2 separate regions of the Homo sapiens genome follow, and region 2 is linked to region 1. The links come from fine-mapping of genetic effects on gene expression. Tissue or cell type: whole blood. Region 1 holds a variant in brackets; the other region holds the start of a gene. All regions are shown on one strand. Distances are between the middles of the regions.

What was found. PIP is the estimated chance that this variant, and not a neighbour inherited with it, causes the effect.
Region 2: FGFR4 starts here. The variant in region 1 is fine-mapped to the expression of FGFR4 in whole blood (INTERVAL, PIP above 0.99). The same link has a PIP of 0.9 or more in prefrontal cortex.

What each region holds. Positions count from the first base shown.
Region 1 is chr5:177,031,407-177,039,666 of GRCh38, forward strand. All of the region lies in intron 1 of ZNF346 (zinc finger protein 346), which reads left to right. Among named protein-coding and RNA genes, the nearest start is that of ZNF346, 13 kb to the left of the region's middle. RefSeq lists a silencer at 7,284-7,333. The variant G/GT (reference allele first, on the strand shown) is at 4,553.
Region 2 is chr5:177,082,468-177,090,467 of GRCh38, forward strand. FGFR4 (fibroblast growth factor receptor 4) reads left to right here and starts at 4,448. Exons shown (of 18, transcript NM_213647.3): 1 at 4,448-4,610; 2 at 7,083-7,226; 3 at 7,923-8,000. The coding sequence starts at 7,136. RefSeq lists silencers at 4,059-4,108, 4,359-4,818, a promoter at 4,329-4,548 and an enhancer at 4,514-4,964.

The sequences.
Region 1 (8,260 bases):
CTTTGAATATGTCATTCCAGTGCCTTCTGGCCTTAATTGTTTTCAAATAAGAAGTTGTCATTAATTGAATTATTTCACTGTACATGATGAGTCATTTTTCTCTCTCTCTCACCGCTTTCAGGATTTTCTGTCTTTGCCTTTCAACAGTTTGTGATGTGTCTAGGTGTAGCTCTCTTCACATTTTTCCTAGTTTGGGTTCCTTGAGATTTTGGAATGTGTAGATTAATGTTTTTCATCAAATATGGGAGGTTTTTGGACATTTTCTTCAAATATTTTTTTCTACTCTCTCTCTCTTCTCTCTTCTTCTGAGGCTCTCCTTACACATATGTTAGTATGCTTGAAGTTTTTCCATAATCTCTGAAGCTTTGTTCATTATTCTTCAATGTTATTTCTCTTTGTTCTTCAGATCAGCTATTTCTATTGCTGTATCTTCAAGTTCACTGATTCTTCTGCCATTTTGAACTTGCTGTTGAGCTCCTCCAGCAAATTTATTGTATTATAATTTCAACTCCAGAATTTCCATTTGTTTGTTTTATTAGTAGCAGATCATCAGTACCCTTACATTTGCTTTCTTCATGCCTTTTCTTTTTTCTTTTTTTTTTTTTTTTTTTTTTTTTTGAGATGGATTTTCACTCTTGTTGCCCAGGAGTGCAATGGCACAATCTCAGCTCACTGCAACCTCTGCCTCCAGATCCAAGCAATTCTCCTGCCTCAGCCTCCCGAGTAACTGGGATTATAGGTATGCGCCACCACACCTGGCTAATTTTTTGTGTTTTTAGTACAGATGGAGTTTCACTATGTTGGTCAGGCTGGTTTTGACCTCCTGACCTCAGGTAATCCACCCACCTTGGCCTCCTAAAGTGCTGGGATTACAGGCGTGAGCCACTGCACCCAGCCTTTTTTTGTTTTTGTTTTTGTTTTTAGACAGAGTCTTGCTCTGTCACCAGGCTAGAGTGCAGTGGCGCAGTCTTGGCATGCTGGGATTACAAGCATGAGCCACTGCACGCAGCTTTTTTTTTTTGAGACAGAGTTTCGCCCTTGTCACCCAGGCTGGAGTGCAATGGCACAATCTCAGTTCACTGCAACCTCCACCTCCTGGGTTCAAGCGATTCTCCTGCCTCAGCCTGCTGAGTTAGCTGGGATTACCAGCCCTCTACCACACCTGGCTAATTTTTGCACTTTTTAATAGAGATGGGGTTTTACCACGTTGGCCAGCCTGGTCTCAAACTCCTGACCTCAGGTGATCCGCCCGCCTCGGCCTCCCAAAATGCTGACATTACAGGTGTGAGCCACCATGCCCGGCCTCTTCATGCCCTTTTCATTGGATAGAAATTTGAGCTTCTTGAGACCATCAGCAGTATGGATTTGGCCAGGCATGGTGGCCCACACCTGTAGTCCCAGCTGCTTGAGAGGCTGATGCAGAAGGATCACTTGAGGCCAGGAGTCTGAATTCAGCCTAGGCAACATAATGAGACTCTGACTCTAAAAAATTAAATTAAAAACAAAAACACAGTATGGACTCACAAAATGGAAGTACCAGTGCTAAGTAGACTTAATAGGACCGTCTTGTTCATTCTTTTAGGCCATACTGCCCATTAAAATACTACATTGTCTAACCATTCTCATCCATGGGTAGATTATACCCAACCTCCCTTTCCTATGATTGTTTGAGGGGTTTTTGCTTTTGAGATGGGGGATCTTGCTCTGTCACCCAGCTGAAGTGCAGTGGCGCAATTATGGCTCACCAGAGCCTCGAACTGCTAGACTCAAGTGATTTCCCCCATGTCAGCTTCCCTAGTAACCAGCACTACAGGCGTGTGCCACCACACCTGGATAATTTTTTAATTTTTTTTGTAAAGATGAGGTCTCACTTTGCTGCCTGTGTTGGTCTCAAACTCCTGGCATCAAGCAATCCTCTAGCCTCAGTCTCCCAGAGTGTCAGATTACAGGCGTGGGCCACTGACCCAGCCCTAGGATCTTTTATTTTCTGCTTTCTGACTATAGCTATACCTAAAAACCCTTTGCCTCCTAATAAGCTGGGTAGTAAATAGGTTTCATCTTCCTAAGGATCACCTTCAGTCAGTTGACGAATTTTTTTGTTTTGTTTTGTTTTGTTTTTGTTTTTGTTTTGTTTTGAGATGGAGTCTCACTCTGTAGCCCAGGCTGGAGTGCAGTGGCATGATCTCTGCTCACTGCAAGCTCCGCCTCCTGGGTTCACGCCGTTCTCCTGCCTCAGCCTCCTGAGTGGCTGGGACTACAGGCACCCGCCACCACACATGGCTAATTTTTTGTATTTTTAGTAGAGATGGGGTTTCACCATGTTAGCCAGGATGGTCTCGATCTCCTGACCTCGTGATCCACCCACCTCGACCTTCCAAAGTGCTAGGATTACAGGCGTGAGCCACCGCACCTGGCCCAGTTGATGAATTTATACAGAGCTCAATTGTAGATTCTAAGGTCACATGTAGGCCTAAGGAATAGCAAGTCATTTTTGAGACAGGGTCTCACTCCCTCACCAAGGCTGGAGCATAGCAGTGCAATCCTGGCTCATTGTAGCCTCGAGCTCCCAAACTCAGGTGATCCTCCCACGTCAGCCACTTGAGTAGCAGGGATAACAAGTGTGCACCACCATACCCAGCTAATTTTTTGTAGTTTTTTATAGAGATGGGGTTTCACCATGTTGTCTAAGCTGGTCTCGAACTCCTGGCTCAAATGATCCTCCCACCTCAGCCTCCTGAATAGCTGGGACTACAAGTGCATGCAGGCTACCACACCTGGCTTAAATTTCCTTTCTTTCTTTTTTTTTTTTTTAATTTTGAGACAAGGTCTTGCAGTGTCACCCAGGATGGAGGCTGAAGTGCAGTGGTGTGATCACAGCTCACTTCACTGCAGCCTTGACCTCCTGGGCTCAAGTTCAAACGATCCTCCCACCTCAGCCTACCAAGTAGCTGGGACTGTAGGTGTGCACCACGACACTCAGCTAATCTTTTTTGGTTTTTTGTAAAGACAGGGTCCCACTATGTTGCCCAGGCTGGTTCTTGAACTCCTGGGCTCAAGCGGTCCTTCCACCTCAGCCTCCCAAAGTGCTGGGATTATAGGCATGAACCATCACACCCAACCCTTAAATTTGTTAAGTTTATTAATTATCTTGCTGTCCCACAAAAGTTCTCTGTGTTCCTACTTCATCGACCCTGTGAAAAGCAGCCCTGTGCTTCATACTCTAGATGGCATCTCTCAGCCTCTGCCCCATACATCTTTTACTTGGCTATCATGTGGATATAAATTAAATCCTGTGAATACGTAACATCTCATAGGATGTAGAATGCAGAAATGCAGTAAAGACCATACTTCTGTGCCTCTTGGCTATTGTTGCTGTCAAAAAAGGTCATGGAACTACATCAGTTTTCCAGCATCCGTTGTCCAGCTTCATAGGTTGAGAGAGAAGTTGTTACAGTCAAAGCATCTTGCTTCCAGCAGAGCTGTGAAGGAGCCTCAGAGACTGTAGGTCACCTATTGGAACATGTATGCATTATTCCTGGAGATGTTTCTGGAGGCCCAACCTAGTATCATACTTTCAGCCTCTCTAGTGATTTTCTTTTTCTTTTCTTTTCTTTTCTTTTTTTTTTTTGAGATGGAGTCTTACTCTGTCGCCCAGGCTCAAGTGTAGTGGCACGATCTTGGCTCACTGCAACCTCCACCTCCTGGGTTCAAGTGATTCTTGTGCCTCAGCCTCCCAAGTAGCTGGGATTATAGGCACATAGCACCATGCCTGCCTAATTTTTTTATTTTTGGTGGAGACGGGGGTTTGCCATGTTGGCGAGGCTGGTCTCAAACTCCTGGCCTCAAGCAATCTACCTGCCTTGGCCTTCCCAAGTGTTGGGATTACAGGCTGAGCCACCACGCCCTGCCTCTCCAGTGAATGAATGAAAAGCACCTCATTTTCCATATCAAATCTTTTGCACCCTGGAGAGATAGTTGGTAGTTGGATTAAAGTTGTGTGCAGATATCATGGCAAAAAGGATGTGTAGTCAGGCTGCCATCTCAGAATTTTGACAATTTTTTTTTTTTTTTGAGACAGAGTTTTACTCCTGTTGCCCAGGCTGGAGTGCAATGGCGCAATCTTGGCTGACTGCAGCCTCCGCCTCCCGGGTTCAAGCAGTTCTCCTGTCTCAGCCTCCCGAGTAACTGGAATTACAAGTGCCTTACCATCACACCCGGCTAATTGACTTTTTTTTTTTTTTTTTTTTTTGAGACAGTTTCACTGTGTCGCGCAGGCTGGAGTGCAGTGGCATGATCTCGGCTCACTGCAACCTCCGCCTCCTGGGTTCAATCGATTCTCCTGCCTCAGCCTCCCAAGTAGCTGGGACACAGGCACCTGCCACCATGCCCTGGGGCTAAACTTTTTTGTATTTTTAGTAGAGACAGGGTTTCACTATGTTGGCCAGGCTGGTCTTGAACTCCTGGCCTCGTGATCCGCCCGCCTCTGCCTCCCAAAGTGCTGGTATTACAGGCGTGAGCTACCGCACCCGGCCTAATTGACAATTTTATCCAA[G/GT]TTTTTTTTTTTTTTCCCTCTGTGGGCCTTAGCTTCCTCCAACCTCATAAACCTCTCAGTTTTTGTGGGCCAGGAATTTGGGAAAGGCTTGGCTGGATAGTTCTGATTCAGGGTCTCTTATGCAGTTGCAGTCAGATGGTGGCTCAAGTTGAAACAGCAGGGAAATGGAGCATCTGGGAGCTAGAGCTGAAACAACAGCGGGGTGGAGCCTCTGGGGGCTGGCCAGACATCTCTCTTTTCATGTGGTGTCAGGAACTCTCCATGTGGTCTTGATGCATGAAATAGTCTGGGGTTTCTCACAGCTTGGTGGCCTCAGAGCAGTCAGACTGCTTACATGGTGGGCAAAGGCTTTAAAAGCAAACATTCCCAATTTGGTTCCCTTTTATAATTTCTACTTTAATGTGTTTATGTTGCTTAGTGGTCAGATTAACTAGGGATTCAACAAGATCTTGTTCTAAACACCTGGAGCCTATAAGCCCTTGATTTTGTATTGTTGGATCTGTGTGTTGGTAGGGAAGCATAATCAAAGTTCAAGTCATTTTGAGATCTACCCTTCCCACGAGGTCCTTTTGCATCTCTTTTGTGTGTGTACGCAGCCTCAGGGTGGCCATGAGTATGTGGCTAACTTGGGCCCTCTCAGGTCTCCGCTGTCACACAGTCTCAGCCAGGAACACACTTGCCCCAACCATGAGCACACCTCCGGCCAGTGAAGCCTTTCACTCTTCCTGCTTACTGCCTTGGAGATCATCATTTCCATCAACAATATTGCTACATGTAAAGGAAATCAAGTGATTTCCTTCCTTCTGTATGGAAGCTATTTGTTTTCATGGCTAGCACCTTCTTGCCAGAGTTTCTACACCGATTGCAGGAAGGGCTGAGAGCAGCCTCACCTGAGCCTGGGAAATTGAGGCTACAGTGAGCTGACATTATGCCACTGCACTCCAGTGTGGGCACTGCAGCCTGGGAAACCCTGAGGTTTTGTTTGTTTGTTTGTTTTTCCCCATCTGGGGAAAAAAAAAAGCCGCTGATTCCTACTGTTCTTACCTGAAGTTCAGCAGTTTTGCAAGCACAAAATTGCTCTCGGATTGTTAAGTCCCTTTGGTTAACTTCCAGAGTGCTGAAGTGGTTGGTTTTGTCAGTTTTGTCCGGTTTTGTCAGTTTTGTCCTGTTTTATTGTTGCTTCTGCAGGAGATCTCCTCACTCTGCCTTGGCCAGAAGTTCCACCCTGTACTCACTTTGTTTTATATTCAACTTCGCTTCCTCTGCCTGACTTCAAAATTGGGAGGGTCCCAAGGCTCAGTCTCTGAACCTCTTTCCTTCTTCATCTACGCTAGGCAATCTCTTCCAGCCCCACAGTGTTCAATATGATTGATATACCAATGATTCCCCATTTATATCTCCAGCTCTGACCTCCCCCTTGAGCTTCAAGTGACTGACAGATCTGAATCTCCAACTCATCTCCACCTATATATCTGATAGACTACTCACACTCACATAACGAAAAGTCTTTAATTTTTCCTCCAAGGCTATCTTCCCCTAGTTCTAATCTATTCACTTGTTCAAGTTCAAAACCTAGGAGTTATCCTTGACTCCTTTCCTTCCTTCACTCCCACCCCCACATCCAGTCTAAGAAATCAGATGTCAAACCTATTGCCGGAACATAATTCCAAATTCATTCACTTTTCTCCATCTCCACTGACAACCTGCCTAGTCCAAGCTTCCATCATCTATTCTCTGAAGACTACAGCAGCCTTCTCCTTGTTCTTTCTGCTTCCATTCTTGTCCCCATACAGTCTGTTGACAACAACTGTCAGAGTAATCTTTTCAAGGGCAAACCAGATCTTGTCACCTCTCATTACACTAACAATAAAATCCGTAGTTCATACTGTGGCTTATGGAGCCTTATATTCATTCAACATCATCTACTAGGCCTCATGCTGTCTCTCCAACTTAATTTCCTACCATTCTTCTCTCATTCACCATATTCCAGGCATAGTGGGCTTCTCTCCATTCTTTGAACATGGAATATGCCAAACTCATCCCTGCCTCACAGACTTAATACTGTTTCAGGTTGGAACACTCTTTTCCTGTAAGCCTTGTGGCTGACACTTCCCCATGATGATTTTTTTTTTTTTTTTTAAATTTTCAGAGTCAAAGTCTTTCTCTGTTGCCTAGGCTGGAGTGCAGTGGCACATTCACGGCTCACTGAAGCTTCAAACTTCTAGGCTCAAGGGATTCTCCCACCTCAGCCTCCTGAATAGCTAAGACTACAGGCATGCGCCACCATGCCCAACTACGTTTTTTTTTTTTGTGTGTGTGTGTTTTTTAATTTTTGTAGAGATGTGGCTCTCCCTGTGTTGCCCAGGACAGTCTGAAACTTCTGGGCTGAAGCAATCCTCTTGCCTCAGCCTGTTGAGTTTCTGGGATTATAGGTGTGAGCCACCACAACCGGCCCTGTGATGGTCTTTACTAACTCTCCTGCCCCGTCATTCTCTACCCCGTACTCTGCTTGTTTTCATAGCATTTCTAATTCTCTGTCATTGTCTTGCTTATTTTTTACTTTATACCCCATCTTCTTTGTTGGTATGGCCCCCAGCACTAAGTGCAGTGTTGACACAAAGCACGTATTATAAATATATTTGTGTGGACTATGTGAATGTACTCTCTAAGGCCAGAGAGTGCATTCCAGCAGAGAGGTACATTTATTTAGCAGGTGCTTACCTGCCCTTGCTGTGGGTTTGGGAGTCTGATTCTGAATATGCTTGAAACCTCATCTCTTGAACAAAACAAAATCCACAATCTCCAGGTGAGGAAGTGATGACTGAACTCTGACCCCTGGGTATTACCTTCCCCATGTGGGTTTCTTATTGTGAGAAGCCTCTGACCCTCTTTTTTTTCTTCTTTTTTCTTCTTCTTCTTGTGTGTGTGTGTGTGTGTGTGTGTGTGTGTGTGTGTGTCCGAGTTTTGCTGTTGCTCAGGCTGGAGTGCAATGGCACAATCTCGGCTCACTGCAACCTCTGCCTCCCAGGTTCAAGTGATTGTCCTGCCTCTGTCTCCCAAGTAGCAGGGATTACAGGCATGCTTCACCACACCCGGCTAGTTTTGTATTTTTAGTAGAGATGGGGTTTTACCATGTTGGCCAGGCTGGTCTCAAACTCCTGACCTCAGATGATCCACCCACCTTGGCCTCCCAAAGTGCTAAGATTACAGGCATTACCAATCGTGCCTGGCCACCTCTGACCCTCTTTTAAAAGTTCTGGGCCAATTTTGTTTATAGAGTCATTTCTCTTGGTTTTTCAGAGCATAGCTAAGACAGGCAAGGTCTTTCACAAAAATTTACCATTTAAAAGAAAAATGCAGAAATAAAAAGAGATCATTAGGGGCAGAAATACAGCCCTTCTGCCTAAAAGGGCTGACATAGGTAAGCTTTAGATTTTGTGGATTAAGGAGAGACATCTTAAAAGCTCCCCACCAAGAACCTCTTCCAGGGCATCGACTTTTTTTTTTTTAAGACAGGGGCTTGCTCTGTTATCCAGGCTGGAGTACAGTGGCACTAACATGGCTTGCCATAGCCTTGACCTCCTGAGCTCAAGCAATCCTTCTGTCTCTGTCTCAGCCTTAGCCTCCCATGAAGCTGGAACCACAGGCATGTGCCACCACCCCCGGCTAGTTTTTGGTTTGTTGGTGTGTTTGTTTCTATGTAGAGAC
Region 2 (8,000 bases), 51 kb after region 1:
TAGATGACCTCAAATAAGTAATTCCATCTCCCTGAGCTTGTTTCTTCACCTACAAATCAGAGCTAAGGATTCCTATGCCATTTGGCTTGGTGGAAGAATTAAAGGATATAACCCATGTACAACACCCAGCATGATGCCTGGCATGTAACGGGAGCTGAAGAGTCACGAGCTCAGGAACAGGAACACGTTCATTTCCCCCAACACTCCTAGGAAGAAAGAAGCTGGAGCAGCCGGGAGCCGTTGCTCACGCCTGTAATGCCAGCACTTTGGGAGGCCGAGACGGGTGGATCACCTGAGGTCAGGAGATCGAGACCAGCCTGGCCAACATGGTGAAACCCCGTCTCTACAAAAATACAAAAATTAGCTGGGTGTGGTGGCAGGCGCCTGTAGTCCCGGCTACTAGGAAGGCTGAGGCAGGAGAGGCAGGAGAATTGCTTGAGCCTGGGAGGCGGAGGTTGCAGTGAGCCAAGATCACGCCACTGCACTCCAGCCTGGGCAATAGAGCGAGGCTCCATCTCCACAAAAAAAAAAAAAAAAAAAGGAAGAAGAGGAAGCTGGAGCATGACGGCTTTCTGGGTGGGGAAACTGAGGCAGAGGCAGGTTAACAGCAGGATCTTAGGGTGACAGGCTCTTGCCTCTGCTAAGCGAGAGAGAGAGAGAGAGAGAGTGTGTGTGTGTGTGTGTGTGTGTGTCTGAATGTATTTTTTTTTTTTTTTGAGACAGGGTCTTGCTCTGTTTCCCAGGCTAGAGTGCAGTGCGTGATCTTGGTTCAATGCAACATCTGCCTCCCAGGTTCAAGTGATTCTCCTGCCTCAGCCACCCCAGTAGCTGGGATTACAAGCGTGTGCCACCATGCCTGGCCAATTTTTGTATTTTTAGTAGAGATGGGGTTTTACCATGTTGGCCAGGGTGGTCTCGAACTCCTGACCTCAAGTGATCCGCCCACCTCAGACTCCCAAAGTGCTGGGATTACAGGAGTGAGCCACTGTGCCCAGTCGTGTCTGAATGTCTTTGAGAAAGAGACTGCAAATGTGACTGGTGAAAGATTGCGTGTCAGCAAGAGAGTGAGACAGTGTGAAAGGCTTAGGTGCTCTCCCTGACTGGCTCAGCTTATCTCCCAGGCTGTAACTGATTACTTATCTGTCTGTCCCCACTACAATGTCAGCAGCCCCTTGAAGGGTAGAAGTAGGGTCCAGGCCAGGTGAGGTGGCTCACATCTGTAATCCCAGCATTTGAGGAGGCTGACATGGGCAGATAACTTGAGGTCAGGAGTTTGAGACTAGCCTGGTCAATATGGTGAAACCTTGTCTCTACTAAAAATATAAAAATTAGCCAGGTGTAGTAGTGCACATTTGTAATCCCAGCTACTCAGGAGCCTGAGGCAGGAGAATCACTTGAACCCAGGAGGCAGAGCTTGCAGTGAACTAAGATCACACCACTGCACTCCAGCCTGGACAACAGAGCAAGACACTGTCTCCCAAAGAAAAGAAAAGAAAAAGAGTCCAATTCGGGGCTTTATCCCCAGGATTTAAAACAGTGGATGCCACATAATGAACCTTCAATAAATAATCATTCAGATGAATGAGTGAATGAGTGAATGACTTTGTGAGGGAGCATCAGCCTCTGTGGAGGGTCAGTGTGAAAGGTTATGAGTGCGGGGAGAGGAGGCAGACAAGGGATATGGGGAACATATCCTAGGGACATCAGAGGGTTGCAAATCTGAGGGATTTGCGCATCTCAGGAGACAAGGAGGTTGCAAGACCTGAGCTATGAAAACTTTTAGTTTGTCTTTGGCTCTGGTAAACTCAGGAAATGCCCGGGAAGGTGAATGAAAGCCATGTGGGGTCCAGCTCCAGCTGGCGGCTCACCCTGTCTCCCCCCACAACCACATTCACAAGGGGAGCCAGCAGAGGGCCAGAGGCAGGGAGCTGAACCCCTCCAGCAGTCCGGGAGGTCTGGCAAGGTACCCTCTGGGCAGGCAGCTCCCAGGGCCAGGAGCCTCATCTGTCCTGGGAGCTCCAGCAAGGCAGGACTCTAGAGAAGGGAACCAGGACAAATTGTTTTTAAAAGATAACCAATTAAAAAAAAATTTATAATATACATATATATGTGTGGGTGTGTCTGTGTGTATGTATATACACACAGACACACAGACACACACAGACACACACACACACACACACACACACATATATATATATATATATATTTTTTTTTTTTTTTGGAGACAAAGTCTCACTCTGTCACCCAGTCTGGAGTGCAATGGCACGATCTCGGCTCACTGCAACCTCCACCTCCCGGGTTCAAGCAATTCTCTGCCTCAGCCTCCCTAGTAGCTGAGATTACAGGCACATGCCACCATGCCTGGCTAATTTTTTTGTATTTTTAGTAGAGCTGGGGTTTCACCATCTTGCCAGGTTGGTCTTGAACTCCTGACCTCGTGATCCACCCACCTAAGCCTCCCAAAGTGCTGAGATTACAGGCGTGAGCCACCGTGCCCAGCCTAATATATATTTTTAATAGAGACGAGATCTCACTATGTTGCCCAGGCTGGCCTCGAACTCCTGAGTTCAAGCGATCCTCCCGATTCAGCCTCCCACAGTGCTGGGATTATAGGCATGAGCCACCATGCCTGGCCTCAATTATTTTCTGATTTATCTTTGGGAGGAGACCATTCTTTCGCTTAAGAAGAAAAAGAAAAAAACAATTTTAAGTCTCTTTAATGGGCCTTACAGTTATGCAAAGATATGCCACTATCCCTTTGGGAGTGAGGGTGGAAAGAACTAGACTTGCCTGCGTAACAATGAGAAAGGAAGTTGCTTCTTAAGACAGGGTCTACACTAGCTAGAGGGGACAACCAGGACCTGAGCCTCAGACAGGGTCTCGCTCCATAGCCTGTTGCCCAGGCTACAGTGCAGTGGAGCGATCACGGCTCACTGCTGCCTCGACTTCCTGGGCTCAAGCAATCCTCTGGCCTCAGCCTCCCAAGTAGCTGGGACCACAGGTGCACCCAGCCCATTTCCCTTCCTCTCAAGGTGCCTTAAGAGAAGGAGAAGGCTTGAGATTCAGGTGAGGGATGGGCAGAGATCAGAGGCTGCCTGGCCTCCTGGTTTGGCCACAGTCTAGATGCTCAGGAGAGAAGTGCTTACAGGTGAGGCAAACATGAGCCAGGTGGGCACGGAGCTATCTGGGAGCACCTACTGTATGCCAGACACTTGAACTCTAATGGTGAGGTCTGAGGACACAGTTCCTCTACTGAAAAATAGAGACAGGGCAACTATGTTGCCAGGGCTGGCCTCACACTCCTGAATTCAAGCTGTCCTCCTACCTCAGTCTCCTAGTAACTAGAACTACAGGCACCCGTCATTGTGCCCGGCCATTCCACAGCTATTTACATAATTAACTGTTCAGTTACAATTCTGGCAAGCGTGCTGAAGAAATAACAGGTCCTAAATAATTACAGCTAGTATTACAAAGCAAGCGCTGCATGCCAGGCTTACACATACTGCTAACATGTCTACTTTTTGCAACAACCTCTTGTGGGTGAGACTATCATTTGCCTGTTTTACTGAAAGGACAGTGAAGACTGAGGCCTTGTGTGATGGTGCTGAGAGCTGGGCCTATGACGTCCAGCCCTGTAGTCTGTGCTCTGAACCACTTCACCCTGTTTCTTTCTCCATCCTCACAGTAGAGACGTCATCTAAGAGGAGCTTGCAAGTCCAGAGGGCTTCCTGAAGGAAGTGAGCTGAGAATAATATGAAATTAACCAGACCAAGGGCCATTCCAGGAAGAGAGAATGGTACGTGAAACTGCCCAGGAGTAGCAGGGTGGGAGCCAGGAGGCGTGGGTCATGGCAATCTATGTATAAAGAGCTATGGGAATCTATAGGAAAATTTAAGGGAGTGGCTGACACAGTCAGATTTGTGTTGTAAGTATCACTCCGCAGGTTGCGCAGGGAACAAATGAGGGAGCAGAAGGAAGGGGTTCTCCTATCCGCTGCACGGCACTGCGCAGAAGACAGGGGAGCCAGGCATTCCCTGAAGGGTGAAAAGCAAGGAGTAGAGCTGGGTAGTAGACTAGAATTTAGGAGCCTGGCCTGGGGCCTGGGTGGGGCGAAAGAGGCGGAGCCTGAATGGGGTGTGTATAGGGGGGTTGCGTGTAGGGGTGTGTGTATAGGCTGGGGCGGGGTCCCGGGAGTGGGCTGACTGGGTCGGGGGCGGGGCTCTCCAGGTGGGCGGGGATCTTGGCCACCCCTGGCCACACCTCTCTCCGGCTCGAGCTGGTCTAGGCGGGGCGGGCCCGAGGGGGTGTGGCAGGAGGTGGGCGGGCCCGGGTGGGGGGGGGGGGGGCGTGGAAGGAGGGGCGGGCCCGAGCAGGAGGGGGCGGGCCCGAGGGGCGGGGTGGGACAGGAGGTGGGCCGCTCGCGGCCACGCCGCCGTCGCGGGTACATTCCTCGCTCCCGGCCGAGGAGCGCTCGGGCTGTCTGCGGACCCTGCCGCGTGCAGGGGTCGCGGCCGGCTGGAGCTGGGAGTGAGGCGGCGGAGGAGCCAGGTGAGGAGGAGCCAGGTGAGCAGGACCCTGTGCTGGGCGCGGAGTCACGCAGGCTCGAGGTGAGCCGGAACCCTTGTGGGCCCGGGCTGCGCTCCCAGCCGCCAGGGGGCGAGAGGCGGCGGGGCTACGGGGACTGCCCCTCCCGGCGCAGGGGACCTGGGCGTCCGCCGGGCGGCAGGGGGTGGAGGGGGCGGTAAATCAGTAACCCGCAGTGCACACAGGGCCTTTTGTCCCGCTCCGTCCAAAGAGCACCCCGGCCGCGGAGCTGGTTACTCATTGCCCACCGAGGCGGGGGCAGGCTGGCCCTGTGCAGCTACCCTCGGGACCCATTGATTCGCACCTCCCCCCAGGCTGGCCCGGCAAGGGTGGGGGAGGACAAGCGCGCTTGTCCCTGCGGCTGTCTTCGCGCCGGCGGCAGAGATGAGGGACCTGAGGCCCCGAAAAGTTCAGTCACTTAGTGCCCGGGGGCCTCCAGCGCGAGTGCGGGAGGCTGAAGGAGAACCCAGGACTGTCTGATGCCTAAGGCAGGCCCTCCATTCCCACGTGGGGGGTGGTCGGTCAGCGGTCAGCAGCCATGGGTGACTCGACTAAGGACTCTGATATCAGGGCAGCCTGGGGTAGGAATAAACTCCCCGGGCCTCCCCACCCACTCCCAGCCCAAGCTGTGTACCCAAAGAGCTGCCCTCCCTGCCAAGCCGAGCTTGGTAGGGAGTTTTACCAAGGAGGATCCGACTGGATTCGAGAGTTGAGGTGGGCCAGAGACAGCAGTATCTGAGTCAGGTAGAGAAGAGCAATGAGGGGCACAGAGGGATGGGCAAGAGAGCACATGTGCCCAGTTTTGAAAGCCAATGGCTTCAGCGCTCCTGAAGGGGCAGACGGTGTGACCAAAGAGATAGGCAGCGGCAGAGAGGGAGCCCTAGGATGTTGAGCTGGATCCTGCTGGGCACAGGTAGCCATTAAGGGCTTGCAAGCTGGGGGGCATGACATGGCAGACTTGCAGGTTTTTTTGTTTGTTTTTTTATTTTATTTTATTTTTTTATTTTGTTTTTTTTGAGACGGAGTCTCACTCTGTCGCCCAGGCTGGAGTGCAGTGGCGCGATCTCGGCTCACTGCAAGCTCCGCCTCCCGGGTTCGCGCCATTCTCCTGCCTCAGCCTCCCGAGTAGCTGGGACTACAGGCGCCCGCCACCGCGCCCGGCTAATTTTTTGTATTTTTAGTAGAGACGGGGTTTCACCGTGTTAGCCAGGATGTTCTCGATCTCCTGACCTCGTGATCCGCCCACCTCGGCCTCCCAAAGTGCTGGGATTACAGGTGTGAACCATCGCGCCCAGCCGACTTGTAGTTTTTTAAAACTCTGCTGGAAGATGAAGGTTGAAGAGCCGAGGGAGAGGATGTTTCCAGAGGCCCATGCAAGAGATGGCCATGACCTGCCTTGAGAAGGGGCAGGGGAAGCCAGATGGACTGGAAGTGGAGTGGCAGTGACCAAGGAGGAGGAGGTGTGATAGGCTTCCCACGCAGGGTAGATCCAGAGACACCAGTGCCACCCATAGGCCCCTAGGACTGCAGTGGTCACCGATTCCTTTGTCCCAGCTGAGACTCAGTTCTGAGTGTTCTATTTTGGGGAACAGAGGCGTCCTTGGTAGCATTTGGAAGAGGATAGCCAGCTGGGGTGTGTGTACATCACAGCCTGACAGTAACAGCATCCGAACCAGAGGTGACTGGCTAAGGGCAGACCCAGGGCAACAGGTTAACCGTTCTAGGGCCGGGCACAGGGAGGAGAACATTCCAACACTCTGCGTGCCGACGCACGTTCTCTCTTTTATCCTCAAAACAGTCCTATGAGGATAGTAAGCCAGAGAGAGACAGAGACAAGGAATTACAAGTTGGTGAGAGTCAGGATTTGAACTTGGCTCTGGCAGATGGAAAATTAGGGTCTGTATTCTTTACAAAACCGTGTGTGCCTCAGATGGAGTTGGTGCATAACAAGCAGAGGTATCCAGGGTCGCGGTCCTGCTTGCCACGGAAGGGGCCGCCTTGTCAGTTGTGACCACCCAGCCCTGGAAATGTCAGTAATGCTGTAAGGAGTGGGGATCGGATCAGATGCCATCCAGATGCTGAAGTTTGACCTTGTGTCATTTTTCACTTTCTTTTTTGGCTCTTCTGCAATCAATTCATTTATTTAGCAAAAAAGAAATTATGTGTGCCGAGAGCATGCAGAAGATATGTCTCCGTTCTCTGCTTCCCTCCAAAAAAGAATCCCAAAACTGCTTTCTGTGAACGTGTGCCAGGGTCCCAGCAGGACTCAGGGAGAGCAGGAAGCCCAGCCCAGACCCCTTGCACAACCTACCGTGGGGAGGCCTTAGGCTCTGGCTACTACAGAGCTGGTTCCAGTCTGCACTGCCACAGCCTGGCCAGGGACTTGGACACATCTGCTGGCCACTTCCTGTCTCAGTTTCCTTATCTGCAAAATAAGGGAAAAGCCCCCACAAAGGTGCACGTGTAGCAGGAGCTCTTTTCCCTCCCTATTTTAGGAAGGCAGTTGGTGGGAAGTCCAGCTTGGGTCCCTGAGAGCTGTGAGAAGGAGATGCGGCTGCTGCTGGCCCTGTTGGGGGTCCTGCTGAGTGTGCCTGGGCCTCCAGTCTTGTCCCTGGAGGCCTCTGAGGAAGTGGAGCTTGGTATGGCTTCTGAGGTGGGAGAGGGTGGCAGGGGTGGGAAGAGTGGGCACCAGGAGGGGGCTGCTGGGCTGAGCAAAGCTGGAAAGGATCCTTGCCCAGGCCCTGAGAAGGTGGCGGCAGGGCAGGGCTCAACCACTGAGACTCAGTCAGTGCCTGGCTTCCAGCAAGCATTCATCTATCACTGTGTCTGCGAGAGAGGACTGGCCTTGCAGGGCGCAGGGCCCTAAGCTGGGCTGCAGAGCTGGTGGTGAGCTCCTTACCTGGGTGTGTGTGCGTGTGTGTGTGTGTTCTGTGCACTGGGTGTGTGACCTAGGAGGTCCAGGCAGCATGTGTGGTATAAGCATTATGAGGGTGATATGCCCCGGTGCAGCATGACCCTGTATGTGGCACCAACAGCATGTGCCTTGTGTGTGTGTGTGTCCGTATGTGTGTGTGTGTATGCGTGTGTGTGTGTGTGTGTGTCTTGGCCACTGTCGTGTGCACTAAATGCTGTGTGTGTGACATGCCCCAAGAGTGTGGCATTTGCCCTGGGTGTGGCATCCGCAGCATGTGGCTGTGTGGGTGTCAAGGAGTGGTGGCTCCTTCAGCATGCGTTGCAAAGTGCTTGTGCCCTGCATGTGCGGTGTGTTCTTTGTACACAGGAGGCTGCCTCAGATGGGGCTGCGGGGTCTGCTGACCTCTGCCCTCTGCCCACAGAGCCCTGCCTGGCTCCCAGCCTGGAGCAGCAAGAGCAGGAGCTGACAGTAGCCCTTGGGCAGCCTGTGCGTCTGTGCT